Regions from separate parts of the Homo sapiens genome. Here region 2 is linked to region 1. Evidence: fine-mapped expression QTL. A gene starts in region 1. The other region holds a variant in brackets. All regions are shown on one strand. Distances are between the middles of the regions.

What was found. PIP is the estimated chance that this variant, and not a neighbour inherited with it, causes the effect.
Region 2: its variant is the best candidate, but not a certain one, in a credible set for the expression of CCR3 in thyroid (GTEx, PIP 0.53).

The regions. Positions count from the first base shown.
Region 1 is chr3:46,241,346-46,243,845 of GRCh38, forward strand. It overlaps CCR3 (C-C motif chemokine receptor 3), which reads left to right and starts at 1,115. Exons shown (of 2, transcript NM_178329.3): 1 at 1,115-1,193.
Region 2 is chr3:46,151,024-46,154,069 of GRCh38, forward strand. No RefSeq gene overlaps it. Among named protein-coding and RNA genes, the nearest start is that of CCR1, 56 kb to the right of the region's middle. The variant C/T (reference allele first, on the strand shown) is at 1,592.

The DNA of each region.
Region 1 (2,500 bases):
TTAGTCAGAGTTCTTCCCACAAATATTGGGTGAATACCTGCTCTGTGCCCAGTGCCATGCTAGGTCCCAAGGGACACATCAGCACATACAGCAGGCACATGGCTCTGCCCTGTGACGCTTTGCCCTGAGACATGGCTCTGCCCTATGACGCTTATGTCACAGTGGCATTCTACCCACACTTTACATTTCCTTAGCCCTGTATATTCTGCAGAGACTTTTCACATATTTATCTTAGTTGGTTCCACGGCAATGCTATGACTTAAATATCATTATTTCCAGTTTAGAGATGAAAAAGCTGAGGTCCAGCAAGTTTAAATTACTACCCCCAGCTTATGTAGCTGTGTATGCCACAACTGAAACTCAAACTCAAGTCTTTTAGACTTGTCTAAACCTTTGCAGCCACATTTTGCCCCATCCAAGTGTCTACTGGACCCTGCAGAATAATTAGTTTATTCCTTTGCCGGGAAATTCTTATTTCATTCTTCATCCTGTCTCCCGATGAGTCAAATCAATGCTTATTCAAGAATTATAAATCCCAGGTCTTTAGGAGGCCGAGACTCGCAGATCACTTGAGGTCAGAAGTTTGAGACCAGCCTGGCCAACATGGTGAAACCCTGTCTCTACTAAAAATACAAAAATTAGCCAGGCATGGTGGCATGTGCCTCTAATACCAACTATTCCAGAGGCTGAGGCAGGAAAATCCCTTGAACCCAGGAGGTGGAGGTTGCAGTGAACTGAGATCATGCCACTGTACTCCAGCCTGGGTGACAGAATGAAATCCTGTCTTAAAAAAAAAAAAAAAATTATAACAACCCCCCACCACTAAAAATGAGCAATGCCAATGGGTGGAGAGCCCCTAAAGCAGCACTAATTGCAAGGATTTCTCAGGTGACTGGTTAGTATGTGGTGTCAATCATGAAAAAGAAGAACTGCACGAAAGTATCTTTCTGAAAACTTGCAAAACTGAGAAGCTAGTCTGTTTAAAACAGGAAGTTATATACTTACATTGTTTACTACTTTACTAATGTCTGTGATCTGATGGTATCTCTGTTTCAGGAGTGGTGACGCCTAAGCTATCACTGGACATATCAAGGACTTCACTAAATTAGCAGGTACCACTGGTCTTCTTGTGCTTATCCGGGCAAGAACTTATCGAAATACAATAGAAGTTTTTACTTAGAAGAGATTTTCAGGTAGGTGTCGCTTTTCCAGGAAAAGGGAGGTGGAACAAGGAGGGGTCCAGGCAGGTGGAAGTAGTAACTTCCAGCAGTGCTCTTGGATCTAGGAGGGAGGAGAGGAAGGTACACAGCAATTTAGAGGTAGTATGGGGCCAGAGTGGGAGAAAATATGGCCACATATCTCCATTTTCTTCTTGCTTTTTCTAATTTTCCCTTTCTGTCTCCCATCCACACAATGATAAGTTTGCGTGTAGCACTCACCCAAACTTGGCCCTTTATACCTCTTTAGTCAACATCTGTGCCCATGTTACCCTCCTATACTTTCACAAATTCTCAACTATGTGCATATGACTACTCCAAAGAGCTTACACTTAATAGCTTGTGTTTATTTATATTGACTTGTAAGAAATAGCAAAAATATAATTTTACATATATATGTGTATATATATATATATACACATATATATATATATATATATACGCACACACACATACATTTTTATATATACAAAGTCCTCCCTCAGTATCTGTGAGGGATTTGTTCCAGGACCCTTGCAGATACCAAAATTCATAGATGCTCAAGTTCCTTATATAAAATGATGTAGTATTTGCTGATAACCTACAAATATCCTCCAGTACCCTTTAAATACAAGTACCTAGATTACTTGTAATACCTAATACAACGCATACAGAGCGCTTCATTCATGTGGAGTCAACATAGCACTTGCTGCGTGGCAAATTCAAGGCTTGGTTTTTGCAACTTTGTGGAGCTTTTTCCCAGATATTTTTGATCCGTGATTGGTTGAATACACAAATGTGGAACCCATGGATACAGAGGGCTGATTATATACATATGTGTGTGTGCATTAAGTATGTATGTGTGGAAATATATATATTTATTTGAAGTTTTCATTGAAAATCCACACTAAATCAAGCTACTAGATGAGTCAGTTGATTGATTTGGTGTCTTTTTTTCTGGGTGAATGAGATTGTCTGTGTTAGAGGGTAGAGCTAGAAAGCCTTACCGATTCTTCTGGAAACGCCTGGATTGACAGAGGATGAGTGTTAACTTTGACAAGTACTTCAAGTGAGAGTGGTGGGAATAAGGGGTCTTCCACATGGATGTGGTATAAGTTGAAGTATATTTTTGAAGTGCAGCTCTTTCCAGAAAATGGTGATGATTACACTGAACCACGCAGGATGAGTTAGCTCTTCTGGGAGAAGAAATATGAGCCCTTTGTATGACTTAATAAGAAAAAAGCAGATCTGTACAGCAGAATAAATTGGGTAAAGGGCACAAAGAGATAAATCACAGGAAGGGA
Region 2 (3,046 bases), 90 kb before region 1:
ATTGCTTCAAAGAGAATAAAATACCTAGGAATCCAACTTACAAGGGACATGAAGGACCTCTTCAAGGAGAACTACAAACCACTGCTCAATGAAATAAGAGAGGATACAAACAAATGGAAGAACATTCCATGCTCATGGGTAGGAAGAATCAATATCGTGAAAATGGCCATACTGCCCAAGGTAATTTATAGATTCAATGCCTTCCCCGTCAAGCTACCAATGCTTTTCTTCACAGAATTGGAAAAAACTACTTTAAAGTTCATATGGAACCAAAAAAGAGCCCGCATCGCCAAGTCAATCCTAAGCCAAAAGAACAAAGCTGGAGGCATCACGCTACCTGACTTCAAACTATACTACAAGGCTGCAGTAACCAAAACAGCATGGTACTGGTACCAAAACAGAGATATAGATCAATGGAACAGAACAGAGCCCTCAGAAATAACGCCGCATATCTACAACCATCTGATCTTTGACAAACCTGAGAAAAACAAGCAATGGGGAAAGGATTCCCTATTTAATAAATGGTGCTGGGAAAACTGGCTAGCCATATGTAGAAAGCTGAAACTGGATCCCTTCCTTACACCTTATACAAAAATTAATTCAAGATGGATTAAAGACTTAAACATTAGACCTAAAACCATAAAAACCCTAGAAGAAAACCTAGGCATTACCATTCAGGACATAGGCATGGGCAAGGACTTCATGTCTAAAACACCAAAAGCAATGGCAACAAAAGCCAAAATTGACAAATGGGATCGAATTAAACTAAAGAGCTTCTGCACAGCAAAAGAAACTACCATCAGAGTGAACAGGCAACCTACAAAATGGGAGAAAATTTTCGCAACCTACTCATCTGACAAAGGGCTAATATCCAGAATCTACAATGAACTCAAACAAATTTACAAGAAAAAAACAAACAACCCCATCAAAAAGTGGGCAAAGGACATGAACAGACACTTCTCAAAAGAAGACATTTATGCAGCCAAAAAACACATGAAAAAATGCTCACCATCACTGGCCATCAGAGAAATGCAAATCAAAACCACAATGAGATACCATCTCACACCAGTTAGAATGGCAATCATTAAAAAGTCAGGAAACAACAGGTGCTGGAGAGGATGTGGAGGAATAGGAACACTTTTACACTGTTGGTGGGACTGTAAACTAATTCAACCATTGTGGAAGTCAGTGTGGCGATTCCTCAGGGATCTAGAACTAGAAATACCATTTGACCCAGCCATCCCATTACTGGGTATATACCCAAAGGACTATAAATCATGCTGCTATAAAGACACATGCACACGTATGTTTATTGCAGCACTATTCACAATAGCAAAGACTTGGAACCAACCCAAATGTCCAGCAGTGATAGACTGGATTAAGAAAATGTGGCACATATACACCATGGAATACTATGCAGCCATAAAAAATGATGAGTTCATGTCCTTTGTAGGGACATGGATGAAATTGGAAATCATCATTCTCAGTAAACTATCACAAGGAAAAAAAAAACAAACACTGCATGTTCTTACTCATAGGTGGGAATTGAACAATGAGAACACATGGACACAGGAAGGGGAACATCACACTC[C/T]GGGGACCGTTGCGGGGGTGGGGGGAGGGGGGAGGGATAGCATTAGGAGATATACCTAATGCTAAATGACGAGTTAATGGGTGCAGCACACCAGCATGGCACATGTGTACATATGTAACTAACCTGCACATTGTGCACATATACCCTAAAACTGAAAGTATAATTAAAAAAAAACAAAAAAAACTAAAGAAATCTCAATAAAGTATGGCTTTAATTAATAATAATATGATCAATGCTGGTTTATTAATTGTAACAAATGTATCACCAATGTGAGGGGTTAATAATAGGGGAAACTGGGTGTGGTCTTATGGGAACTCTCAATACTATCTTTACACCTTTTCTGTGACTCTAAAACTGTTCTAAAAATTATTTATTTATTTATTTATTTATTTTTATTTTTTGAGACGGCCTCTCGCTCTGTTGCCCAGGCTGGAGTGCAGTGACACGATCTCAGCTCACTGCAAGCTCCGCCTCCTGGGTTCCTGCCATTCTCCTGCCTCAGCCTCCTGAGTAGCTGGGACTACAGGCGCCCGCCACCACGCCCGGCTAATATTTTGTATTTTTAGTAGAGACGAGGTTTCACCGCGTTAGCCAGGATGGTCTCAATCACCTGACCTCGTGATCCGCCCACCTTGGCCTCCCTAAGTGCTGGGATTACAGGCGTGAACCACCGTATTTTTTTTTTCTAATTAATCCCCAACATGCAGGCTGTGTGTTTGCCTGTTTCTGGACTATTTTCCAGATCGAAGACTAGCTGAGTGATTCATTTTGTAATTGGTAACCCTGACCCCAGCACCCCTCTGTGGCTGCCTCGTGGAGCAGGCTTCTATTCTGCACACCTCCTCCCTCTCTGCCCCTCCCTCCAGGTTGGCCTGTCTCCTCCCACCTCTCCCCTCCCTCCTGACAGGGTCTGGTCCTTCCTGCTGGAATTCTGTGGGTCATGAGGAACAGGGGATAAACAAGGCAGAGGCTGGATCTGGGGCAATGTTGGGGCAGGAAAAGGAATCAAAGACAGAAGCACAGGGTGGCAGAACCAAGGTCCTTCAATAAGGATGGACACATCAGAGCTTGTGAGTTGTTTATTCAATCACTTAAGAAATATTTGTAGGTGTCTACTATGTGCCAAGCCTGGCTGGATGCTATAAATACAATAGCAAGCAAATTAAATCTACTCCCAAATAATACAATAATGCTCATTCTGGGTTACCTGGACAATGAGCATCTTGGAATTAGGGACACTCCTTCTTCCCAGAGGAGGGGCTGCCCTAGGAGTCTCCTACATTAGAGAAGTAGCACGTTTCTATGGTCCCTGAGGCCTCCAAGTGCCCAGCAGTGGGCATTTCTGGGCACTTTCTTTTCTTTTCTTTGTTTTGTTTTTTTAGACAGAGTCTCGCTCTGTCATCCAGGCTGGAGTGCAGTGGCACGATCTCTGCTCACTGCAACCTCCGCCTCCTG